2 separate regions of the Homo sapiens genome follow, and region 2 is linked to region 1. A link means that fine-mapping ties the variant in region 1 to the expression of a gene that starts in the linked region. Tissue or cell type: whole blood. Region 1 holds a variant in brackets; the other region holds the start of a gene. All regions are shown on one strand. Distances are from middle to middle.

Evidence for each region.
Region 2: PLA2G12A starts here. The variant in region 1 is fine-mapped to the expression of PLA2G12A in whole blood (TOPMed, PIP 0.93).

Annotation. Positions count from the first base shown.
Region 1 is chr4:109,699,330-109,716,129 of GRCh38, forward strand. PLA2G12A (phospholipase A2 group XIIA) reads right to left here. Exons shown (of 4, transcript NM_030821.5): 4 at 10,660-15,166. The coding sequence ends at 15,048. CASP6 (caspase 6) reads right to left here and starts at 4,116. Exons shown (of 7, transcript NM_001226.4): 1 at 4,027-4,116. The coding sequence starts at 4,066. RefSeq lists enhancers at 2,718-2,777, 3,538-3,597, 4,488-4,537 and silencers at 3,778-3,887, 4,038-4,327. The variant A/G (reference allele first, on the strand shown) is at 8,286.
Region 2 is chr4:109,721,221-109,738,020 of GRCh38, forward strand. PLA2G12A (phospholipase A2 group XIIA) reads right to left here and starts at 8,850. Exons shown (of 4, transcript NM_030821.5): 1 at 8,382-8,850. The coding sequence starts at 8,589. It also overlaps a transcript of CFI not described here. RefSeq lists enhancers at 8,239-8,308, 8,968-9,844 and a silencer at 8,639-8,978.

The sequences.
Region 1 (16,800 bases):
AGGGTTGGTTCCCCTCTCCTTAGAGATCTCCCCATTACTAGCCCCCATCACCTGATTGATCTAACCTCACTTCTCCTCAAAAAAAATACAAGGTGGGGAATTCAGTTCAAGTCCCTTTTAGCCTATTCCTCCTGGAACTGCCCCAAGCAATGAGACCCAACTAAGACCCCACACTAAGGCATCCTCTGTCTGTACGCCCTAAGTCAGTTTTGCTCAACCTTGGGCATCAGAATTCCTGGTGTGCATGTTAAAATGCAGATTCCTGGATCCTAACTGAGGCAGAATCAGAATCTTGGAGGAAGGAGGTGACAGCTGCATTTTTCACAAAGTGATTTTTACACTAAGGTGTGAGAGCCAAAAGCAACCTCTCCAACTGGTCCTCCCCGCTGCATGGCAGATGAGAAAGCTGTTTAATCCGACCTTTGCCCTAGGTGAGCACAGTAACGAGGTACTTCCTACTCCACACACTGCTCTATGAAGACAGCACAGGGATTTCACTCTTCCCATTTTCAAAAGCTGTCGGAATCTACTGCCTTTTGATAACCTCACCTGCTTATCTTTTAACCAATTAGAGTATAAAGAAACAATAACTTCAAGAAAATTAAATCCATATGTCACAACCATCCTCCTCACATGCCAAAATTCTGCACAACTTGGAAAGCACTCATGTCTCAGTGTCCTCCTCGGTGGCAGCAGGCCAGCGGCTCACCTCCTGTGGCTTCTGCTCCATACTGACTGCTGAGCCGAAGGCGGCTCACAACCTAACTCATGGAAGCTGTGCCAAATGGCTGCTCAGCAAACTAACTCATATCCCTCAGGGTGAAAACACTGGAGATGTATTCTTGCTTGGGTCTTTAAAACTCTTGTTTCTCATATTGCCAAAGAAGTAGCTTCCCAGTTGTTAGCTGACACATTAAAATTAATAACTTAAGATGTGAGTTTGGGTTGTCTCAAATATGCCCTCACATTAGTCAAGACCTACAGGTTTAGGAATGGCTAACTAGTATTAAGTAGCTGCTCAAGAAAATCTGTTTAAAATGACGTTCTGGCCGGGCATAGTGGCAAGCCTATAGTCCCGGTTACCTGGAAGGCCAAGGCAGGAGGATCTCTTGAGCCCAAGAGTTCTAGGACATAGTGTGCTATGACTGCCCCTGTGAATAGTCACCATACTCCAGCCTGGGTAACAGAGCTAGACCCCATCTCTTAATACATTCAGTTTCAAAGTTAACAGATTTGGCAACCTCAGTGAGGGATTTTTTTTTTAAGTTTTTTGTTGTTGTTGTTGTTTGTTAATGCTACGGATGTAGAAAAAAACCTAGGCTCTGGACATCCCAATTCTGATGCTGGCCAGCTGTAACTTACCTTCACTCTCACAAAGTGCACCCTGCATCCTGCAGTACCAGTTAATGACCAGGTCCAGTGGCCACTCTAGCAAACACTGAATCAGAACAAAAAGCTATGGAGACAGATGCCAGGACCTAAGTTCCAATACTTTTCTGGAGTTGATAAACTTTACCCACAGATTGAGAGAAAATAACACATCATGACCACCTTGAGCTGTGTATCCCAAGAAGACAAGCTTTCCAGAAGGGGGCACTTAAGTATCATTATGCCGCATTAATATTTATTTTTTATTACTATCTTTTTGGGATGGAGTCTTGCTCTGTTGCCTAGGCTGGAGTGCAGTGGCGTGGTCTCGGCTCACCACAACCTCCGCCTCCGGGTTCAAGCGATTCTCCCGCCTCAGCCTCCTGAGTAGCTGGGATTACAGGCATGCGCCACCACACCCAGCTACTTTTTTTTTGTATTTTCAGTAGAGACAGGGTTTTGCTATGTTGTCCTGGCTGGTCTTGAACTCCTGGCCTCAAGTGATCCACCTGCCTCAGCCTCCTGGAAGTGCTGGGATTACAAGCATGAGCCACCACGCCCGGCCTGCGTTAATATTTAAAAACCTGGATAAAGTAAGAAATAGCTTTATTGATATGGAGAAAATAAATTTTAATGAAGGAGCTACCCTGTATAACAGATATAGAAATTCCTTTTCATCTGCAATCTACTTATCAAAAATGTGCCCTTCTTTAAACCTGATTCTTGACCTCTTTTCACTTTTTTTTTTTGAGACAGAGCCTCCCTCTGTCGCCCAGGCTGCAGTGCAGTGGCGCAATCTTGGCTCACTGCAAGTCCACCTCCAGGTTTCAAGCGATTCTCCTGCCTCAGTCTCCCCAGTAGCTGGGACTAGAGGCGCCCACCACTGTGTCTGGCCCTCTTTTCACTTCTCTTCCTTTGCAGGATAATGTAACTGCCACCTCCTTATTCCTTAAATCAGCTTAGGTTTTACAAAACTAATCATTCCTTTTTTCACCTCACTCTAATTTGATAGTCCCTCCAGATAATCCTGCCAGCTACCATTTGTTGATGGCCTGATGCCTTAGATACCTTATCTCACAGCTCCACAGCTCAGGAACAGGGACAGAGAAAGTGGGCCAGGCGTGCCAAGGTCGGCAAAGTGAAGCTGGGATTGAAAGCCAGCCCACCTACAGATTCCAAAGTCTCTGTAGGCCCATCCCCACGCAGCCCCTCCCACCCGAGACCGGCTACCTTTCTAAACTTTGTTCAACTTCCCAAACGACTTCGGTCATTCTACTGTCATCGTCTTCATTCACTGCACTCTCTATGAAAATCTACCCATCGGCTCCATCAACAATGTATTTAGTAACCCTATGTAGAGTAACCTCCATCAGGCCTAGAACATGCACTGGGGAGTGCGGTGGAGGAAGAAGAGGAAGGGAGCAGGTGAGTGAAGGAAAGCCCCGGCTTCCCGCCCCTAGAGACTGCAACTGGACCCTGCACTGTGCCTCCAGGACAAGGCTACCTATCTACCTCCTCTACGACCATGTGACTTTTACAGCTTGCCTCTGGAGCACCATTTCCTTTGTGCAGCAAAATATAAAGAGTTCTTAAACAAAGGCACTCTAACCAACTGCAGGCGTTTCGTTCTTTTTTTTTTTTTTTCTTCTTGATTCGAAGTCTCACTCTGTCGCCGAGGTTGGAGTGCAGTGGGGCGATCTCGGCTCACTGCAACCTCCACCTCCAGGGTTCAAACGATTCTCTTGTCTCAGCCTCCCCAGTAGCTTGCGCCCAGGCCTGGCTAATTTTTTTGTATTTTTAGTAGAGACGGGGTTTCACCGTGTTAGTTAGGCTGGTCGAGAACTCCCGACCTCTGGTGATCCGCCCGCCTCGGCCTCCCAAAGTGTTGGGATTACAAGGCGTGAGCCACCACGGCCGGCCAACTGCAGGCGTTTCGACCTTTTTGTTTGTTTCACTCTGGCCAGGCTTGAAGTTTCTAAACTTTACCAGTAATAAGTGACAGAACGTACGCTCTTAGCAGTTGATTACTTTGCAGAAAAAAGTTATTGTGGTTTTGGCTCAAACCGACAGACAGCAGCAGGTTTCCTGGATGAAGAAGAGAGATACCGGGGTGTGCTGGCCGCCAGGAACTGGCCGCCTCCAGCTGAAGCCCGGGAGGACCCAGGGTCTTGGCCCGGGCACCCCGCGGGCCTGTTATGTTTTCATTATGACTCGGCGGAACAACCCCTCCTTTTCACTTTTCGAAGTGAGCAAACAAAAGATCCAACCCCCAACATTTCAAACGGCCAGGTGTGGGGGAACGCCAGGCCCGCGTGGGGACAGCCTTTTAAGGTTTAAACAGCCGGGGCGCCCCGAAAGCGCTCATCGCCCCGGAGGACAAAGGCGGCAGGGGCACGCCCCGGCGCCGGCGTCGCTACTCGGGACCGCCAGGAGGCGGCAGCCAGGTCCCCGAGTGTTTCTTAGACTGAAGCGCGAAACCGTCCCCACCCGCCCTGAGCGCTTCAATCCAAGAGTGCAACTTCTCCAGGCCGCCCTGCAAAGCCGAAGGAACCCGCGGCCCCACTCCGGTCCGCGCGCCCGGTCCACTAACCCTCGTTTCCCCTCCAGCCGGAGCAAGACGCAGACCTGCTCGGTGCCCAGTCGACGCCCCCTGCCTACCTGCCGGGTGCCCCCTGCGGAGCCCCGAGGCCGAGCTCATTGCAGCCAAACGCGCAGCCAGACACCTTGCCCTCCTCTTCCTGAAGCCACAGGCTCCCGGGCCCGGCCCCGCCCTCGGCCCTTCCTCGGCGGCCCCGCCCCCTGCCCCCGAGCGTGGGGCCAGTTGGTTCTGATTGCGCGCCGCCCGGGCTCCCGTGGATCGGGCTGGTCCTTCCCAGAGTTAAAGCTCCTCCCAGTCGCTCCGGAGCCCGCGGGGACCAAGAGCGCGGGGGCAGGGAGAGGTACGCGGTCTTCGCCTCCAGGCCCGCTGGGACTAACCGTGCCCTGGGGACATGCCAGTTGCCACCCGGGGGGACACACAGACCGCCTAGCCCGAGGCAATTTCACATCACTTGTGTGAGCTCGGACTCATTTAATCCCAGCTGCCCCAAACATTTGCTATTCCTTACTTTGCTATGCCTGTACTTTCTAGAGGTACAGGCATAGATTGTTTTATACCGCTTAGCAGATACTGCCTGTATTTCAACATTGGCTCGCTTTGTGTCTCTGTGTCACATTTTGGTACTCTCGCAATATTTCAAAATTTTTCATTGTTATTATGTCTGCTGTTGTGATCTGTGATCAGTAATCTTTAATATTATTGCAATTGTTTTGGGGCACCATGAACCGCGCTCATAAAGGAAGGGGAAATTAATCCATAAGCCCTGTATGTGTTTGGACTGTTCCACCGAACTTTCCCTTCTCTCTCCCCCTCCTGGGGCCTCCCTATTCCTGGAAACACAATTTTGAAATTAGGCCAACTAATAATCCTACAAAGGCCTCTAAGTGTCCAAATGAAAGGAAGAGCCTGTCACTTTAAATCAAAAGCAAACATGATTAAGTTAGTGAGGAAGTAATGTTGGTAGGCAGAAAGCTAGGCTTCTTGCTCCAGTTAGCCAAGTTGTGAGTGCAAAGGAGAAAAGCCAAGTCATGAATGCAAAGGAAAAAATTTTGAAGGAAATTAAAAATGCTACTCCAGTAAACACACAAAAGACAATAAAGCTAAACAGCCTTATTGCTGATATGGAGAAAGTTCTAGTTGGTCTGGATAGAAGATAAAAACAGCCACAACATTCCCTTAAGCCAAAGCCTAATCCAGAGCAAGGCCCTAACTCTTCAATTCTATGGAGGCTGAGAGAGGTGAGGGAATTGCAAAAGAAAAGCTGGAAGCTAGCAGAGAGGATGGTTCCTGAGGTTTAAGGAAAGAAACTATCTTCATGACATAAAAGTGCAAGGTGAAGCAGCAGGTGCTAACGTAGAAGCTGCATCAGGTTATCCAGATCTAGCTAAAATCATTGATAAAGGCAGCTACACTAAACAACAATCTTTTGTTTTTGAGACAGTCTTGCTTTGTCACCAAGGCTGGAGTACAGTGGTGCGATCTTTTGCAACCTCTGCCTCCTGGGTTCAAACGATTCTTCTGCCTCAGCCTCCCAAGTAACTGGGATTACAGGATGTGCCACCATGTCCAGGTTAATTTTGTATTTTTAGTAGAGACAGAGTTTCACCATGTTTGGCCAGGCTGGTCTTGAACTCCTGACCTTGAGCAATCTGCCCGCCTCGGTCTCCCAAAGTGCTGGGATTACAGGTGTGAGCCACCGTGCCCAGCCAAAACAACAGATCTTAAATGTATATGAAACGGCCTTCTATTGGAAGAAGATTCCATCTAAGACTTTCATAGCTAGAGAGAAGTCAATGCCTGTCTTCAAAGCTTCAAAGAACAGGCTGATGCTCTTGTTAGGGGCTAATACAACTGATGACTTTAAAGCCAACATTCCTTTACCATTCTGAAAATCCTAGTGCCCTTAAGAATTATGCTAAATATGATCTATAAATGGACCAACAAAGGCTAGTTAGTGACAGCACATCTATTTACAGCATGGCTTAGAGAATATTTAAAGCCCACTGTTGAGCTCTAGTGCTCAGAAGAAAGGTTCCTTTCAAAATATTACTCCTCATTGACAATACACCTGGTCATCCAAGAGTTCTGATAGAGATGTACAGAGACTGATGCTGTTATCGTGCTTGCTAACACAACATCCATTCTGAAGCCCAGGGATCAAGGAGAAATTTTGACTTTCAAGTCTTATTTACAAAATACATTTCATAAGGCTATAGCTGTCATCATGATTCCTCTGATAGTTCTGAGCAAAGTAAATTGAAAATCTTCTGGAAAGGATTCATCATTCGAGATGCCATTAAGAACATTTGTGATTCATGGGAGGTCAAAATATCCACTTACGGTATGTAACTAGAGACTAGAGGGGGAAAAAAAGAAAAACGAAAAATTAAAAGTACATGTATCAGCCACAGTGGCTCATGCCTGTAAACCCAGCACTTTGGGAGGCCAAGGTGGATTGCTTGAGGCCAGGAGTTTTGAGACCAGCCTAGGCAACAATGCAAGACCCTGTCTCTACAATTTTTTTTTTTTTTTAATTAGCCAAGAGTGGTGGCACATGCCTGTATTCCCAGCAACTCAGGACACTAAGATGGCAGGATTATTTGAGCCCAAGTTTGAGGCTGCAGTCAGCTGACTGTGCCACTGCACTCCAGTCTGGGTGACAGAGTAAGACACTCTTTAAAAAAAAAAAAAAAAAAAAAAAAAAAATATATATATATATATATATATATATATATAATATATATAAAATACATATATAAATATTTAAAAATTATATATATTTCAATTGGCACACTGGGTGGTATTTTACAGGCAGGACAACATACCTATCCATTTTATATATATATATATATATATATATATATATATATATATACACACACACATATACACACACACATACATTATACATAGGTATATGCATATATCTCCACATTAACAGGAGTTTGAAAGAAGTTAATTCCAATCCTCATCACTGATGTTGAGGGGTTCAAGACTTCAGTGAGGGAAGTCACTGTAGATGTGGCAGAAGTAGCAAGACAAATAGAATTGGAAGTGGGGCCTGAAAATGTGGCTGCATTGTTGCCATCTCATGATAAAACTTTGATAGATGAGGAGATGCTTTTTACGGATGAGCAAAGAAAGTGGTTTATTGAGATAGAATCTACTCCTGGTGAATATGCTGTGAATTGTGTTTAAATGACAACAAAGGATTCAGGGTATTAGTTGACAAAGCAGTGGCAGGGTTTGGGGGGATTGACCCCAATTTTGAAAGAAGGTCTGTGGATAAAATGCTACCAAACAGCATCACATGCTACAGGGAAATCTTTAGTGAATGGAACAATCAATGGATGGCCAGGTGCAGTGGCTCATGCCTGTAATCCCAGGACTTTGGGAGGCCAGGAGTTCGAGCCCAGACTGGCCAACATGGCAAAACCCTGTCTCTACTAAAAATAACAAAAATTAGCCGGGCACGGTGGCAGGCACCTGTAATCCCAGCTACTCAGGAGGCTGAGGCACAAGAATCACTTGAACCAGGAGGCAGAGGTTGCAGTGAGCCAAGATCATGCCACTGCACTCCAGCCTGAGTGACAGAACGAGACTCCATCTCAAAACAAACAAAAAAATGAAGCAAACTTCCTTATTGCCTTATTTTAAGAGATTGCCAGTCATCCCAGCCTTCAGCAACTACCACCCTAATCAGTCAGCAGCCCTCAACAATACCCCACACCAACATTTATAACTCGCTGAAGGCTCAGATGATCCCTAGCATCTTTTAGCAATATTTTAAAATTAAGGTATATACATTATTTTTTTAGACATGTTATTGCACACTTAACAGACTACACTTTAGTATGAAAAACTTTCATATGCACTGGGAAACCAGAAAATTTGTGTGACTCTTTTATTGGTGGTCTGGAACCAAACTCGAAATCCCTCTGAGGTATCCCATAGGGGGTGGCATATATGTTCCTGTTTCATGTGTAGTCCTTTCCCCAGTGCAAGTTACTTTGTAGGACTTGCAGTAACTTATTTTAAATGTTCTTTGTATATGAAACTTGGGCCAAAGTAAACTGGAGGTAACTCCTGGATTTTTTTTTTTTTTTTTTGAGACAGTTTAGCTGTTGTTGCCCAGGCTGGAGTGCAATGGCATGATCTCAGCTCACCGCAACCTCTGCCGCCCGGGTTCAAGCGATTCTCCTGCCTTGGCCTCCCAAGTAGCTAGGATTACAGGCGTGCACTACCATGCCTGGCTAATTTTGTATTTTTAGTAGAGATGGGGTTTCTCCATGTTGGTCAGGCTGGTATCAAACTCCCG[A/G]CCTGGTATCTGCCCACCTTGGCCTCCCAGAATGTTGGGATTACGGGCATGAGCCACGACACCTGGCTTCTCCTGGATTTTTCAAATCTGGCTTTCATAGGTAGAGCTAATTCAGGGACAGAACCATGCAGAAATTCACAGAATGATGAGGGTCTCTAGATAATGGTGTTTCCTGGGGAGAGCATGTTGTCCTACCCCAAAAATAGCAGCCAAACAGTGTGCCAACAAGGTGCCATGGGGTGCTCAATGTTGGATTTAATTTAGCTCCTCCTTGGGTGGTTGGCTATTGTAAAAAATTTACTTTGACAATGCTTTCAGATTTGATGAAACGGTGGCTTTATCTTTTGTAATTCCTCTGGACCTTGTAATTTTAAAAGTAAGCAACCTTAGAGTGGGAAAAAAATTAAAATGTGTTAAGGCACCACTTCTAATATATTAAAATAAGTATAATGAATACTTAAGAAATAAGTATAAGGAACTCATCTCATACTATTATTTGGGAGAGAAAAAATCTAATTTGGTAACTTCTACATGTGCCTGTGGTTCAAGTCTTGATGTCATTAGAGTACGAAATCAAAGAAGGGTTTTTACTCAAACCATTTACTGTTCATTGTATGCATAAAATATTTCAGAAATCACTGTCTTAGTAACTTATCCTGCAACAAAGACATGGAATTTCCATATTTCCCTTGTATGGTGGTTGTGATGATTGGGTTAAGTGACTGTGAAGGACTCAGAATACTGCCTGCCATGTGAAGAGCTCAATGAATATTGGTTATTACCATCTTGTTGTACTCGTTGGAAACAGCAGTGGCATTTTTTGGTTTCCTCATTACCTACCCCAGTTGCCTTGCATGTGGCTCAATATTTAGCCATTGACTACAATTCAGGGTTTTCACATTTACACTCTGGCTTTTATCCAGTCTGAATGAGTTATCTGACCACCAGAACTTCCAGTCCTTTGGCCTCACTTTCAGGGTCTCTGAGTCCTGAAAACATTCCCTCGACAAGAGTGGAACTCCAGTTGGCTGACGTTCTACTTATCTGAAAAGAGCAGATGGAAGGAATTTGTCATTTTTTCTCCATAAGTATCTTATTATCTCAACATTACTACTATAGTCTATGTGGTTAAGTATTTTAAAACAATATTTTGTCTACCTTTTTTTCCCCTTATTCACCACTGATCAGGATTTTGTCTAAAAACATAAATACAGAACATTTTCTTGGGTACTTATTTCAGAATTACAAATGTATAATTTTAGCCTCTTAAAGCAACAGCTAGCCACAATAAAATGGCTGAGTGCCTGGGACTGGGAAACAGGCTGCCCAGGTTCTACTCACGGCTTCCCCATTTTATTTGCTGTTAGATATGTGACAGGTAATGCAACTTAACCTCTCATAGCTTCAAACTCTTTGTTGTAAAATGAGGTCCAAATCTATTCCAGAGTTTTTGAGACAGTAAATTGCAAACTCCTATGAAAGTACTGAACCCACAGCAAGCTTTCAGTACATTAGTTATTTTCAGCACTGAAGATTACCTAAACTACTTCCCAAGCTGTGGTCTATGAACCAGCAGTATCATCATCTGAGAACTTGTTAGAAATGCAAATTCTCCTGTCTACCCCAGACCTACTGAATCAGAAACTCTGGGGGTGGGGTCCAGCAGTGTGTTTTAACAAGCCTGCCAGTGAGTCTCACGCATGCTCATGTTTGAGAACCACCAACATAGACTGGAATCCTACCAAGCACTCTCTTCCCTCTCAAAGAAAAATATTCCCACAGCAAATCCATTAAAATTCAGATACACTAAGTTAACTGACAGGATGACTTGATTCTTCCTATATCTGAATAGTTTTCCATAAAAGTGACTTATTGAAACTGGTTTGCCCTCATATCTCAATCGTGTCTTCATTACAGCTTCTCTGTGCTCAATGTCTCCTTTATGAAATAAACAGCCATCTCTGTCCCTGGAAGAAATGTGCCAAAAGATTTTAAGGAGATAGGCATTATTCAAAGGCAATATATTATTTTAAAATATAAATAAAAGTGGAACTTATTAAAACTGAAGGTCTTGGCTTGTCACCTATCATAGGAATGAAATATAGGGAATAAAGTTAAGTTCAGAGATAATTCTACAACTTAAAAATTTTGGTCACTGATTTTGGTGTTTAATATTTTTTCTTACAGAATTCATAGAAATATTAATTTCTATGATGATTCTGATTGCTATACTTAAAACTTGAAAGCCAACAGAGAAATGTTTGTCAAGTTGTCAACAAGGAGATTTTTGAAGGATGTTATGGAAACTGAATAAGTAAGCCTGAGGCAAAAAGTCTAACATCATTGTGACATATATAAAAGATGACACTAGTGATCCCTTTACAGTTTTATTAATAATTATTATTTTTCGTATACCGGTTGCACTGATTCATTTTTGCTCTTTTATTTTTTAGGCAGATGGCTGGTTTTTGTAGGATTAAGCAGTGAGGAAAAACAGCAAACTAAAAATGCTACTTCAAATATAGCAACAGTCACTACATAAGGCTTAAATCAATATATTGCAAGTAATTTCTATGAATTTTGAACAATACAATGTAGTGTATGTGGAAAGATCTTGCCTAATAAGTTTCATTCTACTCCTCAAAGTTACTGAAGTCAGTCAACTATTAATAACAGAATTGTTTTTATAGAAAGATTCCATCTTCTTTACTGTTAGATGTTATACGTGTCTTGTACTAGGATAAAATAATGAGCATTGTGCATCGCACCTTCTGATAATCTCATACTTCTATAAATACTAAGATAAATAATCACTCTTTTAAATTTAGAGAGAGTTGGTTTTAGGCTAACAATTTTTTTTCTTCTTTCCAAGACAGAGTCTTATTCTGACGCCTATGCTGGAGTGCAGCAGTGCAATCTCAGCTCACTGCAACCTCTGCTTCCCAGGTTCAACCAATTCTTGTGCCTTCACCTCCCGAGTGGCTGGGATTACAGGCATGTGCCACCACACCCAACTAATTTTTGTATTTTTAGTAGAGACAGGGTTTTGCCATGTTGGCCAAGCTGGTCTCGAACTTCTGACTTTGAGTGATCTGTCCGCCTTGGCCTCCCACAGTGCTGAGATTACAGGCTTGAACCACCATGCCCAGCCTCTAACAACTAATTTTAATAAGTATTACTGGACTAGTCTACAGGTTCACTGAAAGAAAGGCTACCTGTGAGGATGCGTTTAATTAGCTTTTGCCCTTATATCTCAATTCTGTCTTCATTACAGCTCTGTGCTCAGTTTCTCCATCTATGAAATAAATACAGCCATATCTGTCCCTGGAAGAACTATGTCAAAAGATTTTAAAGAGACAGGCATCATTTGAAGGCAGTATTATTTTAAAGTATCAATATTACATTTCTTGCAAAGAGCTGCTGACAGTTAGTTCTTGCCTTTTTTTTTTTTTTTTTTTTTTTGCTCTTTTAATGAGTTTATTCTGTCAATAGGGAAAATATCAACTTTAAAATCTAAACATATGCCACAAAATTTTGGGACAAATTTTGAGTTGAAGACGGCAGTACAAACTCATGTTTAGCTTTGTACACACATAAATAATTATAGATGTGTACATATGCATGGATTAATATACATACATATTTCTCAACTCTGCTACAAACAGTGACATCCCAGTAGCAACAAGCACATCTAATGCCCAGATCTTGGTTTCTAAGTATGATTCTCCAACAAAAGGAACCAGGGCTCTTTGGAGCAGGGGTTGATTCTAGGGATTCTAGGGTTGGGGCAGGGAATATCCAAGATGAACCTGGAGCATCTTGTAGTGCCAGAAAGTAAGAAGTGCTCAAAAATCAAAAGGATGGGCACATCAAAGGGACATAGTAGCCAACCTGGCAGAACTCCTAATAGCCAAGCTGGACAACTTAAGCAACAAAATAAATACTGTGTTACCCAAAATACAAAATATACATGAGTCCATACTGATGTAAACAAATTAGGGTGGGAGGGAGAAACAAATTTTCCATATAGAAAAATTCCAAATACTACATATGGATATTCCCACTTCCAGGGGGTTGAATGTAATCTTTCCCACCCACCACCTCCCATGACTGGACTTAGTGACTGTTTTCCAAAGAACAGAAGTATGGAAAGGGAAAATAACAGTAATTTTCAGCAGCAAAAAACCAACACACACTACCTTAACCAAGTGTCCAAAGTTAATACACCATCAAGCTGATAGCATGTAACTCCTGACATGATGCAGTGAGAAGGACCTTCACCTCTGGTATTCTTCCTAAAAATCTATAACCCCACTCTAACCATGAGGAAAACATCAGACAAACCCAAATTGAGGAATATTCTACAAAACACCTGACCAGTACTCCTCAAAACTGTCAAGGTTATGAAAAAGAAAGACTGTGGAACTATCACAGACCAGAGGCTAATTAGGCATGACGACTAATTCAGTGTGGTATCCTAGATTGGATCCTGGAAAAGAAAAATGACATTAATTAAAAAACTAGTACAATCTGAAAAATAAAGTCAAAGTTCCGTTAATAGTAATTGCCATTGCTGGTTACTTAGCTTCTGACAAATGCTTCATGGTTAAATAAAAGGTTAACACTGGGGGAACTGGGTGAGTGGTCACAGAAGCTCTCCATGTATCTTTGCAACTTTTCTGTAAATCTAAAATTATCCCAAGTTTTTTTTTTTAATCTGAACATAAAAAACTGTTTCTACTGATTTTTGTATAATTTGTGATCACGAATTATATTTTATAACGATATTGAGTTTGTCCTTTTGAGAAAGCCAATGCTGCTAACAAAATCCATGAATTCATTGTAAGTGTAAAGTTACCTGGACAAATATTTCAATAGTAAATATTGATAAACCATTTTTTTTTTAGAGTCTTGCTCTGTTGCCCAGGCTGCAGTGCAGTGGCACAATCTCAGCTCACTGCAACCTCCACCTCCTGGGTTCAAGTGATTCTCGTACCTCAGCTTCCTGAGTAGCTGAGACTATAAGCATGCGCCACCACGCCCGGCAAATTTTTGTATTTTTAGTAGAGACGCTGTTTCACCATGTTGGCCAGCTGGTCTCAAACTCCTGACCTCAAGTGATCCAACCGCCTCAGCCTCCCAAAGTGCTGGGATTATAGGTGTGAGCCACTGTGCCCAGCCGATAAGCATTAATTATTAATAATGGCTTACAAAACTGTACCTTTTATAAAGGTTTGAAATAAAGAATCAATTGAGGGTCCCAAACATTTAAGTGGAAACCCAGTTTGCTCACTTAGCCACAAGGCATACATGTGCCTTGTCTCACTGGAACAGCTGCCACCAATTCAAGTTGGAAGATACTAGGTTCCCGGCAATGACATATCTCCAAAGTTAGGAACATGGCCCTTTCTCCAGAACATACTTTTCCTTCTGCCCTGTTCTACCTGTAATGACTTACAAATAACCGCCTCTCCCTATGCTGTCCTTCTCTGACTTTGAAAGTCAGTTCATCTTAATAACTTTGGCCATGGGTCACCCAAAGGATATATATGGCTTGAGGTCCCAGGCTAGGGAAAGGTTAACAACCAGTAGTCAGCAAAGACCGGTCTAGGAACATAACTGAGCATTCCAAGAGATTGAAAAGTTTTCAACATTCATAGACATCTTCAGAAGCTGTTGAAGTTTTCTTGGATTTGCTCTAAACATATGGTAATAATTTTCAATGTAAATAAGAGATCTATAAAAGGCATTTATATCTTGCCTTTTCCATCCTTTTGGCTCTAATTAAAGGCTTTTTGAAAAGCAGTATCAAGCACAAATTTTAGTAAGACCACAGTTAGTAAAAGGTTACAGTCTTTAAAAAATCTACAATAAGGAACAAGTGCTGGGAAATAAATAACAAAGCATAACAGCAAATAGTGCCTTGATATATTAGGTTAAATATCTTTTCATTTATCTCATTAAATCCATCTTTTCTCTAACTTGGCAAAGGTTATAGCAAAAGATGACATTTGTCATGTGAGTAGCTCATAAAATGGGAGTGGCTATGCTTCTGAATCGCATTCACATCACCTTCTAGGCATATTACATAACACTTAGCTATCCTGGGGTTGCTCCCTACGAGGTTATCAGCTGATGGTTCCAATTTTACAACTGGAAAAATGGAAACCTTGTCCTTGTAAGTAGTCCTAATAGAAATGTGACTTACTCATATGCTCAACGGGCTACAGAGAAACAACATATTATGTTGTACTTTAATTACATATTATGTGTAATTAAAATAGAAAAAAAAAGTCCGTTCCTTCTAGGCATAAATGTGTATTTAAAATTTCATAGTAAACAAATACTTGTAAGTGATAATTTCCCCATTTTCCAAATAAGATAATGTTGAACAGACATTATGATGAATTTTATATTTGATCTCTTTTTTTGGTAAATGTGGTTGTGAAAATTGAGTTATATATTCCTCTTTTCAAAATTCTCCGCTAAACAAGCACTTGTTTTTGATATTGGTCAAGACATTTGGCATACTAAGTAAGGGAGCAATGCTGGGGAAGATACCTGAGAAGACAAGCGTGCCCTCCCCTCACTATCTCCCTCACTTTTTTTGCTTTGAGGTTTTAACATCAAGATATAAATTATTTTAAGGTCTCAAAATAATCCTTTCACAAAAATAAGACAGTTTTATGTTGTAAAAACATTAGTTATTTGTCAAAGGTATGTTCTTCCATCTTCATCTGTCACTAGCTGTCGGCATCTCCTTTAAAGATCAGTTTTTTCTTCATAATGACACCTGCATGCGGCTCGTTGGCTGTCCAGATATGGTTTACAACCTAAATGTATAACACTGTCAAACAAGAGCTCCACTGTTGTTTCACATGCTGCAAAACAAGAAAATGGGATTACTGTTGGGCAACTGCATTGCTCTTTTCACCTATGTTACACATTACAGCACAGCAACAAGCATATCCCTCGTGAGCACTGAAATGTATGCTAGATGAAATCACCAAACTCTCACAACCTGTAGCATATTTACATACACACATATATATCTACAGATTTCCAGTTTTAGTCTCATGCATCTTATTTTTTGTTTGCATTCAACTGTTTAACCCAATTTTTTTTTTTTTTTTTTTTTGAGACAGGGTCTCACTCTGACACCCAGAGTGGAGTGTCATGGTGCAGTCATAGCTTACTGCAGTCTCCACATCCTGGGCTAAAGTAATCCTTCCACCTCAGCCTCCTGAGTAGCTGGCATTACCATGGCCAGCTCATTTTTAATTTAAATTTTTTAAATTTAATTTTTAATTTTAAACAGACACACAACACCACACCCAGCTATTTTTGTTTGTTTGTTTGTTTGTTTGTTTGTTTTTAGTAGATATGAGGTCTCACTATGTTGCCCAGGCTGGTCTCAAACTCCTGGACTCAGGCAGTCCTCCTGACTTGTCTTCCCAAAGTGCTGGGATTACAGGCGTGGGCCACCATGCCTGGCCCAATTGTTTAAACTAGACAAATAAAAGTCTTTTAAAATAGCACTGATTAATCAGTGTTTTAACTTTCTTTTTATTTGAAAAACATAATCACTAACAGAGTTGTCTGATAATACTCTTAAATTTGCATTTTAAGAAAAAATGTTTTATGTGCGGAAGAAACAAAGTTTAAAAATTGAAATCTCAAAACATTTCATTATGGCCAATGGCTTCTGAGGACTGATCATACATCAGTTAAGAGGCTTAAAGTAAACGGAATCCAATCTCTTTGACCAATGTCCTAATTTGACTTGGGGATATGGGAGCATATAAATCAAAAGTATTTTTCCCCAGTCAGGTAGGTTTATTTTATTTATTTATTTATTTATTTATTTATTTTATTTATTTTTTTGAGACAAGGTCTCACCTCACTCTGTCACCCAGGCTGGAGTGCAGTGGCATGATCTTGGTTCACTGCAACCTCTGCCTCCTGGGTTCAAGTGATTCTTCCACCTCAGCCTTCTGAGTAACTGGGACTATAGGCGCCTGGCTAATTTTTGTATTTTTTGTTAGAGATGGGGTTTCACCATGTTGGCCAGGCTGCTCTCAAACTCCTGGGCTCAAGTGGTCCACCAGCCAAGGCCTCCCAAAGTGCTGGGATTACAGGCGTGAGCCACCGCACCCGGCCCCAGTTAGGTTTTTAAATTTTTTGAAGACTATGAAAAGGTAATTTATTTACTTTTCTTATTCTAAGAAACCTGAAACATCCAGGTGAGATTATCTTAACATGTTACACTTACAGAGATATAGCACAGAGTGGCTTTTAGTTATCCAAATACTTTTCGTTTCAAAATATTCATGTTAAGGAAGAAACTTGTCATTACAAAATCTTAACATTTTCAAAGTTCTCCAAAAGACTTTGCCATTAAGAAACAACCAACCACAGAAGTGGAGAGGCTATGACTATTAAATAGGAGGTTACAAGATGATTGGTTTCACATTCTTCTTAAATCAGAAAACAGGAAATAAATCTATCTATGCTT
Region 2 (16,800 bases), 22 kb after region 1:
TTTCTGGACCCTTGGAAGATGAGGGTAGATGACTCAGGCTATCACAGATGAGTCACCATGATCCTTCAACTCTCATCGCCTACTTTTAGTCCTTCATTCTTTTTTTTTTTTTTTTTGAGATGGAGTCTCGCTTTGCCTCCCAGCAAGCTGGAGTGCAATGGCGCGATCTTGGCTCATCGCAACCTCTGCCTCCTGGGTTCAAGTGAGTCTCCTGCCTCAGCTTCCCCAGTAGCTGGAATTACAGGAGTGTGCCACCAGGCCTGGCTAATTTTTGTATTTTTAGTAGAGACGGGGCTTCACCAGGTTGGCCAGGCTCGTCTCAAACTCCTGACCTCGTGATCCACCCGCCTCGGCCTCCCAAAGTGTTGGGATTACAGGCATGAGCCACCATGCCCGGCCCAGTCCTTCATTCCTAAGAAAACAGTTTATGACTTGGCTTCCTACTTACAAGGGCCTACAGAGGAAGGTCCAGTGGGCATCTCAAACTTAAGCTGTCCCTCCTGACATTCACCTCAAATTTGCTCCATTCACAGTTTGCTGTTTTCAGTTAACAGTAATTCTGTCCTTCCAGATGCTCAGAGCAAAAATGTCAGACATTTTTGCTTATGTTCTTACGTTCTTATACCCCACATTCAATCCAACAGTATATCCTGTTGACTCTACCTTCAAAATATTCAGAATCTAATCACTTCTTACCACCTCCACTACTACCAATCCTGCTCCAAGCCACAATGGATTATTGCTATAAACTCCTAACTATTTGCCCTACTTTGGTTCCCCTGCTCCACACCAACCCCCATAATCCAGTCTCAACACCGAGCACAAATGATCGTATTAAAATATGTTAGATCAAGTCTTTTTCTGCTCAGAGACGCTTTAATGGCTTCTCATCTTATTCAGAACAAAAGCCAAAGTCTATAAAGCCTATGAAACCCTGTATAACCTGGTCTTCCCATGATTTCTCTGACCTCATCCTCTTCCTAGTCTCTCTTCCTTTCTTCCTCAACCTATTCCTCTTTGCTGTTCCACAGACACTGCAGGTCTGCTCCTGTCCCAGGGCCTTTGAACCTGCTCTTCCTGTATGTGGATGCTCTTTCTCCTGACACTAGTTTCTCCTTTACTGCTATGGTTTGAATGTTTGCATCACCCCAAAATTCATGTTGAAACCTAATCACCAATGTGATGGTATTAGAAGGTGGGACTATTGGAGGTGATTAGGTCATGTGGACAGATCTCTCATGAATGGAATTTGTGCCCTATAAAAGTGGCCCTAAAGAGCTGCCCTGCCCCATCCATCACCATGTGAGGACACAGCTAGAAGGTGCCATCTATGAACAAGGAAGTGGACTCTTACCAGACATTGAATCTGCCAAATGCTAGATCTTGGACTTCACAGCCTCCAGAACTGAGGAATAAATTTCCATTGTTTATAAGCCACCCAGTTTAAGGCATTTTGTTACAGCAGCCTGAACAGACTAAGACATTCACCTTCTCAGCAAGTCTTCCCTGACCATACTATTTGTAGCACATATGACCTTCTAACATACTATATCACTAATCTACCTATTTTATTATGTCTCCCCATCCGAAAATGTAAACTCCTCGAAAGCAGACATTTTTGTGTTTTGGATTCCCAATGCCTAGAACAGTGCCTGGAATAACTTTGTGATGAATTTTTACAATAAGTATGTGATGAATTAATGAACAGAAGACTTGGAAGGCTTGGAATATTCATTATAAATGGAGATTATCCGTTAAGAAACCCTGCTGTTTGCCCTAGAGTCTCTTTTGGGCTTGGTGAGCATTCATCAGCCAGCCTCCAAAGACTGATGACTTCTAGCTTGTCACATCTCTTTAAAATACAGCACCTCAGACTGAACACTGTAGGGTAAGATGGGCTTTTTAACCTTTTGTGCTGGATAAAGTACTTGTATTAAAACAGCCTAACACAGTATGTTTCAGCTGTGCCTGACTGCTAACATAGACAGTAGTAAAAAAAAAAAAATCATCAGTTCTTTCTAAAATGGACTTTTTAATACTTACTGCTAGAGGCTTAGCACTTCTGCAATTTAATTTTGAGTCTAAATATAAGATTGTATATAAGATTCAATCTTGTTAGTTTCAGTTCACCATTCTCGACTGCTGAGCAGTTTTTAAATCTAGAGTTATTCACCCAGTGTTGCCTGTTGCTCCCAGATATTCACAAACTTAAGATGCAGATATTAATCAGGACAGAGGTCCACTACAGATGAGTCCTCTCTCCAAGCAGCCGTGAAGTCATCAAATAGTAACCAGTTTTTCTCACAGGAGTATCATGAGAAACTATACATTTATCTATAGTTTTCTTTGCCCTAACACACTATAAATCTCTTCACAGAAAAGGAGGCTGGATCAGCATTTAATTCTTGGGAAGCCCATTCTAGTTCCTCAAGCTTCATCATGAAACTCTCTTTCGTCAGGGGTTTTGACAATCAACTGTTCAAAATGTTTAGAAACATATCTAGAGATACACACTAAGAAATAGGTCAAGTTGTTAATCTGAAAAAAGTACAATAAATACACCAGAGAATGTTCAAAAAGTCTGGAAACAGGAATAATAGTGTATTTACAATATATATTGTTCAGGTTAACAACTGGACTGTTTTAAATTTAGAAGTATATCATCTAAAAAAGTGTCTAGTGGTTAATGAAAAACATATTGAGTGTGTCATTTGAAAATAAAACATAATGTTTATCCTATGTTTCCAACTTTTTAGACACCTTGTACATTCTCCCTCCCTCCCATCTGCCAGTCTAGAGATTTCTGGCACCTCACCCTGTTCCATGAGAAGCAAAGATTACCACCCTCAGACAACCGATATGGGCCTATGGCTTTAAAGACATGTGTCTCAATTGTCTTATTTTGTTTGTTTGTTTTTTTCTGAGACTGAGTTTTGCTCTTGTTGCCCAGGCTGGAGTGCAATGGCATGATCTCAGCTCACTGCAACCTCTGCCTCCTGGGTTCAAGCGATTCTTCTGCCTCAGCCTCCCAAGTAGCTGGGATTACAGGCATGCGCCACCATGCCTGGCTAATCTTGTATTTTTAGTAGAGATGGAGTTTCTCCGTGTTGGTCAGGCTGGTCTTGAACTCCTGACAGGTGATCCGCCTGCCTCAGTCTCCCAAAGTGCTGGGATTACAAGCGTGAGCCATCGCGCCCGGCCTTTTTTTTTTAATCAGAAAGATACTTCCCTCAATGTACATACAACAGCAGTACTTCTATTTTTCCTTCCTTTTGTATTTTATCTAAATCCATAGACTCTGATTTCAAATCTATAAAAACATTCCTGATGCTGATGATGTGTGTAATGACAGTGATACATATATATGTGTATGCATGCGTGTACATATATAGACATTTTCTCATAAGAGATAATTACCTTTGAATGGGAGAATGATCAGACACAAATGAAGTCAGAAAAACTAAAAACATGCCCACCATAGGAGAGTAAAGAGGAAGAGATAGTACAGAGAAGGACAACTGGCAAAAATGAGAATGGAGGTACAAGGAAGTAGGAGGCTGCTGTGCCAAACAGGGCTAGTGGTTATAACTGTCTGAAGAAGAAAAGTTGATAAAAATCAAGTAATAAAGAGCCAACATCTACTGTACATGAAAAACTGGATAATAACACCATGAAATAAATGCTGGTAAAAAGTTTGGCTCCCCAGTGTAAATGGCAAAAGGGGCATATGTGTATGGTTCTTTAGTTTTTTTCAAGGCAAACTCCTAATGTCATTTCTTCAGAGAGGCTTTCCCTGCTTACCCAATCTAAAATAGCACCCCCTCTCTTTCTAGCATTTATTGACCTAATTAACATTAACATTAGTCGGTTTCTATGAAGAAAGGACTTAGTCTTGCTCACCTAGAAGATATTTAGCACACAGTGGGCACCCAATAAATTACCAGATTAAAAAATGGGAAACATTCTTTGATGAAATTAAAATAATTCTTTATCCACAGCAAAAAACTGAAAACTTGGAAGTAACTAGTTTCCTGAGAAATTCTAAAGTATTTTGAAATTCTAAATTCACCTTTAAATTAAAATAGTTATTTCTGAACAAGGCAAGTTATATAGACAGTTCTTTATTAGAGGTTAAGTTGATTCAGACACCAATGTTACAAATGTATTAATATTTTAAATTTTGTTATAGTTTTATAAATGGCTAAGCATTTTAAAAATTAGCATTTCTACTGGTGCCAGTTTTTACAAATAAAGCAAAAACTCAATAATGGAAGAAACAAAATCAGAGTAACATCAAAACACCATGATGTGTTGCGGCCATTGTCCTCTAAAATTTGTAAGCGGATACAAACCAAATCCACTGTGTACAACTGCATGGAAAGACTATTCATTAATTTCCATTTTTGACTTAAGCAATAGCTCCTTCTCTTGATTGTTTATCATTTGTATGGACTGCAGAAATCTAAAGATTTTCATAGACTGAGACAAAGTTGATTATTTTCCATGTATTTTTTCTAAATTTGATGCAAATACTTCCAGATAGACCAACTGTTTTCACCTGACAGAATATGAAGCAGATGACAAGCACAAGAAGTAGTCTGCTGGGTCACACAAAGGTCTCATGGCAGAGTTTTGTAAGATTCCAACCTGCACTCCCAAACACTTGAGACTTTAAGTATTCATGATCATTAATCTCCAAAAGGTCCTTATATTACTTTATTTTTCTAGTCTGTTCACTTTTATATTTTCCTCAAATCTCCAACATCCCCATTCCCCATCTTCTCTGTCAGCTGATGACCTGGATTCCTACTTTACTGAAAAAAGCAGGCAATCAGGAGAACTTGAACATCCACCCACTTAACCAGCACCAGTGCTCATATCCTCTACCTGTGTTCCTATTAACAGGGCTATGCTATATGCTCTTGGCCAAACTCTCTAAGTATGTACTAGAAACTACCCCCTCTCACTTACCCAAGGCTATGACTCCAATAATTCTCTCCCTCGTCAGTATTTCTACTCTCCACTGAACCATTCTCAAAAGCATACAAATGTGTTATTATTTTTCCTAATGCCCGAAAACTGTTCTTTCCACGGTCTTCCCCATATCAGTTAATGGTAATTCTGTCCTTCCAGTTGTTCAGGCCAAAAACTGTGGTATCATTTTTGACTTAACTCATACCTAACTTCTAAGCCATCAGCAAATCTTTTAGGTCCTTCCTTCAAAATATATCCAAAATCCAACTACTTCTCATTACCTCTGTTGCTACCAACCTGAGCAAAATCACCCGTCTTTTGTCTGGACTCCTGCATGCGTCACCCTGCTTCCATTTTTACTCCCCCACTCCCTTGACCCCTTCTGTTCTCAGCACAACAGCCAGAGGGATCCTAGAAAACATACGTCACTGAATTAATTAATGACTTATTCATCATTCTAAAAACATTTACAAGCCAGTTTTGTGTTCTATTTTTCAAAGGAAATCGAAAAGTTTTCTTCCTTAAATCTTCCTTGCTGTCAGGGAGAAAAAAGTTGAAGAAAATAACGGATCATCAAATTTATTTCCCTAAATACTTAACTCTCAATAAGGCCTTTTTCCTACCCAAGAGAGGATGGCCAAAACTAAGGGAGCAAGTCTCCATAATGCCAGTCCCTCAGGTAAAGCAAGGACATGTGCCCTTTATTTGACCAACCTCTCCCTACCATTAACTCACTCTTTTTTTTTTTTTTTAAAGCTCTCTTGATCTCTTTCGTGCAACTAAAAATACCCCTTAATCACCATGTTTCTCCAGATTTGGGATTGTTCTGTTTGGTTCTGATTTGGTCACCTGAATTCCAAAATATAGGAAAGGTTGAATTGTTCCAGAGAGACTGCTCGAGTAACAGCAATTTTATTATTATTATTATTATTATTATTTTTGAGACAGAGTCTTGCTCTGTCACCCAGGCTGGAGGCACGGTCTCGGCTCACTGCAACCTCCACCTCCCAGGTTCAAGCTATTCTCCTACCTCAGCCTCCCAAGTAGCTGGGACTACAGGTGTGCACCACCATGCCCAGCTAATTTTTGTATTTTTAGTAGAGACGGGGTTTCACCATGTTGGCCAGGCTGGTCTCGAACTCCTGAGCTCAACTGATCCGCCCGCCTCAGCCTCCCAAAGTGCTGGGATTACAGGCATGAGCCATTACGTCCTGCCTAATTTTTTTTTTCATTGAGATCCAATTATCTATCAGTATGGTGACTTGGACTTGAAACCACATGTCCGTTAAACGTAGAGTACTTACTAAGACAAAAAATTTTTTTTCACTGAGGCATATAACATTTCTTAAATTCTCAAATTCCTTTGTGTTTTTTTGTGCCAGAGACCTTCCTCTAAACTCCAAATAGTAAATTTTGAGAAGCCTGTAGAAGATGAAAAAGATTAAAAAGAAAGATTAAGCCAGGTGTAGTGGGGGCATGGCCTATAGTCCTAGCTATTTGGGAAGCTGAGGCAGGAGAATTGCTTGAGCCCAGGAGTTGGAGGCTGCAGGGAGCAATGATCACACCACTGCCCTCTAGCCTGGGCACAGAGGGAGACCTTGCCTCAAAAATATTAACAAAAAATAAAATAAAAAGACTAAAACAGTATTTTAACAAGGCTGGTATTCATTCAACTTCAGGCATGTTTTAAATGTAAATAAACTCTAGAACCCTAGACTAATAAATTTATGAAGACGACTCCTTCCAAGTCTTCCCTATCTCTGTAAATGGCAACCGTTTCCTTCCTTTGGCTCAGGCCAAAACCTTCAGAGTCATCCTTGACTGGCCTTTCTCCTCAGGTCCATTGCACTTGCTATTCCCTCTGTCTGGAATGCTGTTTCTCCAAATAACCACATTCCCTCCCCTTACCACGTGCAGATTTCTTCTCAAATATTCTTTCATCAGTGAGGCCTTTGCTGAACAACCCATTTAGAAGAGTAAATTGCCTCCAACATGGCCCCTCGTCTGCCCTGATCAGACTCCACACTTCCCCTAATTTTACTTATTTACTAGTTTACTGCCCATCTCTCCCTCACCAGAACTCAAGCTCCACGGACAGAGATTTTTGTCTGTTTTATTAACTGCTGAATCTCAAATTAGAACAACATCTGAAGCACAGTTGGGACTCAAATATTTGTATAATGAATAGGAATGACTAAGTAAAACTGTAACATTTGCTTTAGGAAAGGCAACTATTTGATCCTTAAATTATGCACTTAATCCTCCGAACAAGTTCTACAAGAATAAAAACATCTTCATGAAGCATACGTTTAGGTGGTAACGTTTAGGCACAAATTTAAGAAGCAATGCAACATGTCTCAGCACCTGTTCAGCGCTTTAAAGTATACAAGATACAGTTCATCCTTTACTTCTATTAACATAAAACTAGAAATTATCTTGAAAATTGCAGGCAGCATGTGGCATCATAGGTTTACATGATACCAGTTCCTTTTAAGTTCACCTATACAATCAGGTTCCAACAATGAAGTCACTGGATCCCCGATTATTTTCCGCTGCCAGCATAATGAGACTCTAACCTTGGCTAATCTTATTGGAAACATGATCTCCCAACTGCTCTCTTAACATTTTCAATTTCCAAACAAAAGTCCAATATTTTTCTGACCTATTAAAATATTTAAGCACTCAAAAATGTGCTACAAAAGAACTATCTCTGCCTGAAATACTGAGTTGATTAGTACTCATACCGCCACCAAACAAATTCTCAGGTTCAAAGAGAAAGTTCAAAAAATATTAAAAGAGTAAATGAAGATAACTGTATTAACGTTAACCAACAATGAGGAGGAGGCGGGTCACTGATATCTAAGGAAAGAAGAGTTATCGGAACCCTTTCTCAACACTCGAGTACACCAAAAGTCTGTACAAAGGTCGCAAGTTATTGTCTATGGGTTTGCAGAAAAAAAACCATTTAATATCAATTATAGAGAAAGTTAATACGGCATGGTTTTTAAATTCTCAGTTTGCTTCGCATGTTCATCCAATTTACAGAAGCAAAAATGAGCTAAAACCAGTCTGTTCCACTCTATTCCCATGATTCCTACGTCAGTAAGTTCTTCGGCAACTTGGTGCAATTGAGGGGGGGAAAAGGTAATTCAGAAGCAATGCAAATGGGACGGGGGGTACACCTCTCCGTTAGAATGTGACCTCTCACATTCTAACAATAGTGGTGCGAACTTGTACCCAGCTTGCTCAATCACTAGAACGGCAAGATTCTAGCAGTGGTTAAGTTTTTCCACAGCCGAAGGACACCGTCAAGGTCTGCCTTGCATCTGTCACTCACACCTCCAGGATCTCCGTCACCCCAATCCCCCGAAAGCACGAGCCCTCGCTGGGCCCGGGTGCCCCCTCACCGTCACTGCATTTATACTGGCAGAGACCGTCCTCGCCTCCCAGGAGGTCCAAGGCGGCGTTCAGGTACGTGTCTATCTTATGAACGCCGTTCCGGATGGTCTTCAGGGTGGCTCTCCAGTCGGTGGTCTGGGCCTGCTCCTGGCACCTGACAACAGCGGCCATGAGGAGGAGCAGGAGGGTGAGCGCGGGGCGCGAGAGCAGGGCCATGCGCGCAGCGCCGGGCTCTACGGGTCCCCGAGCCGCGGCGCGGGGCGCGTCCCCACAGAGTCCCCAGGACGCGCTAGGCAGCGGCGCGGGCCCCGGACTTGGCAGCAGCCAGCTCCATATCCACGCCTCCTTCCCGGCTGGCCCTCAGGATCTCGCTGTCTTTACGTGAACCGCCTCGGGCAGGCAGCGCCGTCGCGGGGACGCGCCCGCTCACCTGGACCAGCGCGCCCGCTCACCTGGGCCAGCAACCGTCCCCTGTGCGCCTGCGCCGGAGCACGGCGCGTCAGCGGCGCACGGGAGGGGCGGGACGCGCAGGGGTGGGGCGGGGCGGGGGCGGGGTTGGGGGGGGCGGGGAACCGGGGGAGGGGCGCGCGGGGCGGGAAACGGGGGCGGGGCCTCCATGCCCACGTGGTCTCCGCGGCACCCTCCCAAGACCCTTGGTCCTGGTTCACAAGAGAACCTTAAAAAGTACCCAGGCCTGAGCCCCTTTTCTAGGGAGCCTGATTACGTTGTCCCAGGTGGCAGTGGGCGTCGGTATTTTTTAAGAAAGCTCTCCGGGCTGTTAACCGTGAAGCAAGAGTTGCAGAGCTAACCCCGGTGGCCTAACCTGACCAGTCGGGGCTCAGCACAGTAGCCCCGAGAGACAAGCTTTTCTGGGTGTGGACAACATCGGAGAAAATAACCCCTGTGCCCCCTCGCAGAGAGCGCTGCGAGAGGTCCAGCTGAGTTTCCGGCTTGAAGACGTGGTTCCATTGGCAATGTGGGCAGAGTCCGGCTGTCAGCTCGCAGAGCAGGGCTTTTCCTCCTTGCGTCCTCTCCCGGTCCTCCAGATCTGCTGTGGCCGCGGTTGGGGGAGCGGGATCTGGAAGATGCCAACCCATGCCTTGGCGGTGCCTGACTCTAATCAGGACGAGCTAAATGCTAGTTTAGACTTTCCGGAAAAAGAAAATGGGCCAACATAAAAATCATAAAATTCTCCCCTGGTAAGGAAGAAACAGTAGTGTAAACTTAAATACAGTAAAAAGTAAAATAAATCTTAAGGAAGTCATTGTTTTTCTACTCAAGGGATTTTGTAACTTGATAGTTACAGTGACGTTTGTTTCTCTGTACCTACCACCCTGCCCCCAGCATTGTGCGGGATCCATAAATAACTATTGCAGTAGTACTTTGTATCAGTTGTAAATATCTGGTTATCTTAGTATCACAGCAGTTTCCAAGAATTTTACAGTAAGATCCAGAGCAATGTTGAAAGTATTGGGCAGACCAAGCGCGGTGGTTTACGCCTGTAATCCCAGCACCTTGGGAGGCCTGGAACTCCTGAGGTCAGAAGTTCGAGACCAGCCTGGCTGACATGGTGAAACCCCATCTCTACCAAAAATACAGAAAATTAGCTGGGCGTGGTGGCGGGCACCTGTAATCCCAGCTACTCGGGAGGCGGAGGCAGGAGAATCACTTGAACCCAGGAGGTGGATGGATGTTGCAGTGAGCTGAGATTGCACCACTGCACTCCAGCTTGGGGCACAGAGCGAGACTCTAAAAAAAAAAGAAAGTGAGTAAGTATTGGGCATAGGTGTGTCCTTTCTATAAGAATTACCAATAAGTTCTAGGTTTGGCCTTTTGTGTTTGTTACAAACTAAATGAGCTTATAATAAACGTTCAGTGCACAGTTCATAAAAATTACATCCCTCTTTATTGAGTGCTTACTATGTGCCAGGCACTTCATGAATATGATCGCTCACATTCAGAACACTACTTTACAAGGATGCAGACTTTGGGCAAGTTAGAAACATAGAAAGGCATTCCTCCCTACAAACAGGGTAGCCCAACAAACGGTGTAGCTCCTGGCTGGAGACTGCCTGCACTTCACTCAGCCCCTCAACCAGGAGTCTTGGGCAGTGATTAATTCCTACCACAATGGAGAAGGGGGAAGAATGTTCCCTGGAAGGTATTATTATCTTCCTCTTTTACAATAAAAGAGTCGAGGTGAGAAGTCATGTGACAGTATCTACTCCAAACCAAGGCCTCTGTCTTCACAAAATACCACAGATATTTTTATTTTTTAATTTTTAGACAACACATTTCAATACATTTTAAAAAGGGAACTTAGAATCATTGTCTTAGCTTTCTGGAACATTGGTTTCTCAGCTCCAAAGTATGAAAGTTGGACTAGATTACCTCTGAGATACCACCACCTGAATCCTTAAACCAGGCTTGGTTCTTACAACTCCCTAGTCCAGGGACAAGACTTTCAAAAGAAAGGATAGAATGTAATAAAATAACCTAGTTCCAGCCCTCAGTTATGACCCAAAGCCTCTCCTTTCCCCCACTTTCTCTATTTATTTACTTCTTTGTGATCTCATCTAATTTCTTACACCTTAACTACAGCCTATACTCTGAGGAATCAGACGTAGTTTTCTTTGTCTGATCTCTCCTTAGGGATTAAATTCTCAAATGCCAGTTCTTCTGGCTTGATGCAGCTGTTCTCTTTCTCTCAAGCAAATCTTTCCACTGTCTTCCCCATGAGAATCACCACCATTTTTGTAGAAAACAAGACTCTAAGTTTTATTTTCACATTCTTTTCACATTTAATCATTATATATTTGTTGTTCTGCTGCAGTAATTACAAGGTTTACGTTTTCCTCTTAATTGATGCTGTTAAATACCAGGGATCTGCACTGACCACAGACTATCTGTATAATTTGTAGGGCTCAGTGCAAAATAAAAATACAGAGCCCCTTGCTCAAAAATTAAGAATTTCAAGGTGATGGCCGGGTGCGGTGGCTCACGCCTGTAATCCCAGCACTTTGGGAGGCTGAGATGGGCAGATCACGAGGTCAGGAGATCGAGACCATCCTGGCTAACACGGTGAAACCCTGTCTCTACTAAAAATACAAAAAGTTAGCTGGGCATGGTGGCGGGCACCTGTAGTCCCAGCTACTCGGGAGGCTGAGGCAGGTGAATGGCGTGAACCCGGGAGGCAGAGCTTGCAATGAGCCAAGATCGTGCCACTGCACTCCAGCCGAGGCCACAGAGCAAGACTCTGTCTCAAAAAAAAAAAAAAAAGAATTTCAAGGTGATAACAGCAGAGCATTAAAATAAGTACAGAGCCCTTTTGACTGTGGGGCCTTGTGCCACTACACAGGATGCATGCTCTGATTTACCATATCATATAAATTTTTTTTTTTTGAGTCTGGCTCTGTTGCCCAGGCTGGAGTACAGTGGCACAATCTCAGCTCACTGCAACCTCCGCCTCCCAGGTTCAAGCTATTTTCCTGCCTCAGCCTCCCGAGTAGCTGGGATTACAGGTGCCCGCCACCACACCTGACTAATTTTTTGTATTTTTAGTAGCAATGGGGTTTCACCAAGTTGGCCAGGCTGGTCTCGAACTCCTGACCTCAAGTCATTCCCCTGCCTTGGCCTCCCAAAGTGCTGGGATTACAACATGAGCCACTGTGCCCAGCTCATCTCACGTAACTTCTAGATGACCCACTTCCATCTTTTCTTCCCAAATTTTGGCATAAACTGTTTGAAAAGAGCCTTCTTTACAGGACACTTTCATCTAACCAGCAAAACCTGTTATTTTCATGACAGACATCATTAGTTGCAAATCCACAGCTGTGTTCCAGGTCTTTCCTGCTAGAGAGTGGCTAGCTTGTCTATATATACTTTGTGGTGGGCAGAAGCTGAAGATAGGAAGTCAGTTATGATACAGTAATCTAGGTATGGCATAAGTATGGCTTGGTCCAGGAAAGGAGCAGTGGAGGTGTGAAAAGTGGTCATATTCTAGATGTAACTTGATGGTAGAGCAGAAGGGATTTGCTGATGGACTGAATATGAGAGAAAAAGAGGAATCAAGGATGGCATTGAAATTTTGGCCTAAGCCACAGGATAGAGAGAGTTCTAACTGTCAGAAATGGGGAGAATTGTGGAAGGAGAGGGTTTTGCGGGAAAATTTTAAAAATAAATTTCAGTCATACCATATCCAAGAAGCTTATTCTGAGTCTGCAGTTCAGCATAAAGGTTAGAAACGCATTGGGAAGTTGTCAGAATAGAAATGGCTTTTAAAGTCATGGGGCTTAGCTGGGCGCAGTGACTCATGCTTGTAGTCCCAGCACCTAGGGAGATCAAGGCTGGCAGATCGCCTGAGTCCAGGAGTTCAAGAGCAGCCTGGGTAACATAGCAAAACCTTATCTCTATAAAAAAAATACAAAAATTAGCCAGGCATGGTGGTACATGCCTGTAGTCCCAGCTACTTGGGAAGCTGAGGTAAGAGGATCCTTTGAGTCCGGAATGCAGAGGTTGCAGAGAGCCAAGATTGCGCTATTGCACTCCAGCCTGGCAACAGAGCAAGACCCTGTCTTAAATAAATGAATAAATAAATAACATGGGACTAAATGAGATCCTCTAAAAAGTGAGTGTACACAAAGAAGCAGAGCAAGGTCTAAGTCTTAGGAGGTCAAGGAAAAAAGAACAAAGGCGCTTAAGAAGGAGCAGCCAAGTGCAGCAGAAGTGGAAAAGTGCTATATTCTGGTGTGTCAAAGAAAGACAGAACCACCCATTCTGCTGATATGAGGAAGGTGAGGGCCGGATATTGACTACTAGATTTAGTAACTTGGGGGTTATTGGTGAACTTCACAAGAGTCTCATTGAAGTACTAGGGAGAAAACACAGTTGTAGTCAGAGGAAGAAAAGAATTAGAAATGGCGATTACAGGCAGGACGCAGTGGCTCATGCCTGTAATTCTAGCACTTTGGGAGGCCAAGGCGGGCAGATCACACGGTCAGGAGTTCGAGACCAGCCTGGCCAATATGGTGAAATCCTGTCTCTACTAAAAATACAAAAAAATTACCTGGGCGTGGTGGCAGGTGCCTGTAATCCCAGCTACTCGGGAGGCTGAGGCAGGAGAATTGCTTGAACCTAGGAGGTGGAGGTTGCAGTGAGCTGAGATCGTGCCACTGCACTCCAGCCTGGGCAACAGAGCAACAGTCTGTCTAAGAAAAAAGAAAAGAAAAGAAATGCAATTACAGTGAATATCAAAATAAATTATGAAAATATAAAATATACTATATTTGTGCTTATTCTTGTCTGAATGATATATTAATAAATACCTTGGAATGGGAGATTCTGGGTGGCCAAGACTGGCTTTCTTTTCTTTTCTTTTTTCAGAGACAGAGTCTCATTCTGTCACCCAGGTGGGGGTAGCATGATCATAGCTCACTGTACCCTCGAACTCTTGGGCTTAAGCAATCCTCCTACTTCAGCCTCCTGAGTAGCTAGGAATACAGGTGTACACAACTGTGACTGGCTAATTTTTGTTATTGTTATTATAGAGATGGGGTCTCCCTGTGTTGCCCAGGCTGGTCTTGAATTCTTGGGCTCAAGTGATCCTCCTGCTTTGGCCTCCCAAAGTGCTGGAATTACAGTCATGAGCCACCGCACCCAGCCCTACACTATATTTTCTATATAGAACTTCCCAGAACAATAATCAGGATAGGCAGTCAGATCTCAGATCTCTTCTAGAAACACCAAATGGTTTCTTCTATATATATGAGCATCATGGAAAAACATGGTAGTATTGATGAGATGAGAATGCAAAATTTGTGGGGTTTAACGTACCACATTAACTTAGAATGCTTGGAAACTACAATATTACACAATGCTTTGTGTTATTTTAAATAACAAAAATCAATAAAATATTAATGATAAACAGCAATTTCTATTTTTTAGTATTTTCCAATGTCTCACTAATGGCCTCAGCAGTGTTGTGATGAAAATAAAAGCCACGTGGTGAAAACAGTTCCAGCCATAATGGTTAATTTTTGTCCAGGATGAAAATAAAAGCCACATGGTGAAGCAATTCCATCCATAATGATTAATCTATGGCTAGTGCCAATGTCGCGGGAATCAGGCGGATGAGAGAGACTTCGGGGTAAAGCAGGAGGATCTTTATTGAGTGTACTCAGACTTACATCTGGAAAACTGGGCCTAGAACAAAGACAGCACTTGACTTTTATACACACTTCAAAAAGGGAGTGGGCTAGCTTGAAGCAGGCTTACAGTTACAGTGGTGTGAAAGCAAGGATACAGAGGCAGAGCAATTAATCAAATTGTGACAGGTTCATAACTCAGGATTACACATGACCGTTGCTGTGCAACCCAGATGTCAGTTATCTAGGTTTTCCTTTAGTGCCTAGCACAGCTTATTCCATGACCTTCACTATGGCGTCCAGGTGGCTGTATCTCAGGCCTGCTCAGACAGTTTATGACCTTCACTCCACTACTTAGATAAAACAGAATGCTTGAAGTTGCTAGTTACAGAGAACAGAAATCTATAAACTCATACTATAAGAGAAAGGAAAATTTGTTTTTCTTCTCCTTATGTTGAGGGAGTGCTGGGAGAGTCTCCAGAGCACATTCCTTTGTGTCCTAGCTTCTTAGATAGTGTTTATCAAGACTCTTTTTCCTGGGTCTGGGCCTTGCCTGCTACTGCCTTTGGGATGAGTCAGCCTAATACAGGAAAGCTTACTTCTTTCTCTTTTTAATTTTATTTTTCTTTATTTCTTTAATTTCCCACCGCACCAAGGCTAGAAGTTTCATCTCTAAAAGGGAACTTAAGTTAAAGAGAAATAAGTACTAGGTTCCAGCCTTTGGCTAGAAAGTCAATGGCATTAATAGCTTTCAAGCTGGGACAAAGTGAAGGGCAAGAGATGGCTGCACCAGATCTATGAGCATGGGCTTGTTCCATAATATGTTGAAGACAATGATCCTCTGCTTGGGTATGGTGGGGGGTCTACCATCAAGAAAATTTGATCAAAAAGATATTTTCAAGGTATCTTTGTATGCACAATGTAAGATTGCTTGGCACACAGGAGGGATGGAAAGAACCCACTTAGTTGAGACTGCAGGGTTTTAAGCCATCAGGACAGAGTCCGTATGTAGTTCTTCTAATTAGGGTTCCTGGCTACTTCCAAACCTCTGGTTGATTTTCAGCTTCGTATTTCCTATCACGTACTGTACACCTTCACTGGGCTTCCTTAGACATCACAACTTCAAAATATCCCTAACTGTCTAAATCTGATTCCATTCCTCTACTTCCTTCCTTTCTGTACTCAGTGGCAACACCAATCACCTCACCATCTAAGAGACTGGGAATTATCCTAGTCTCAAATCCCTCTCCCTAGTACTGTAATCTATTTGTCCCCAAATGCCATCTATTTCACTCAACATATCTAGAGTCAGTGCCATCCTTTTTATCCCTGCTTTAGTTTCTACCTTCATTATTTTTCATTTGATTACTCCAAGAGTGTCTTAACCATCTTCCATACCCTCTCTCACCCACTTCCAATACATCTTCCTTGCTGTCTCCAGCTTGAACTTCCTAGAATCCTTTAATGGTCCAAACTCTTTGGTATGAGGCTCTCCCTGGTATGGCCTTTCCCCCTCTCCAGCTCCTTAGCTGCACCCTGGGCTCCAGTCACTATGAACTGCTCTCCATCCTTGTGTGTGGTTAGCTCCTCACACTGCAGGGCCTTTGCATTTGTATCTGCCTGGAAAGTTCTTCCATAATTCAGACTAAGCTCACCTCTGCAGAAGCCCTCTTTAATATGTCAGGCTGGTTTCTAGATCTCCCTTTAGTTTTCCTTACCATTGTACCTGGCAAGGTGCAGCCGCATAATTTATTTTCCCATTTCTCTTGTAAGACAGAGAGCTCTGAAACCAGGGTTAAATATAAGACGATGGCAGAGCTCCACATCCAATGAGTTGTGTCCCTGGCCACCTTCAGGCGAGCTCACAGAAGCAGCAATGTCCAGTGCCCAGGCTCTGCAGTACAAGCTGTACGTGGAGACTGGGACCCATGCTAGTGGCCATGGTAGTCTCTGATGGAGCAGTCCTGCAGTGTGGTCTGTGAGCGTTATTTCCAGATGTGTAGACTCCAATTCTCTGGCTCTTTTGGAAATTCTGTGAACTGCATAATATCTTTGAATAAATCTATTTTTTCATTAAACCAGTTAGATTGGCTTCTGTAGTCTGGAATTAGGAGCGCTGAGACAGACCTCTAAACTAGGAGAAGCTTGGAGTCAGGTCATCTCACTCCTGCTGTTCCTGGTCTCTGTCACATAGAGTCGCTTCAGAGGGCTGACTTTCACCCTTCAAGGCTTGACCCTGGTCTACTTTTCTGTGAAGCTGCCAGATGCTAGGTCACTGTGCAGA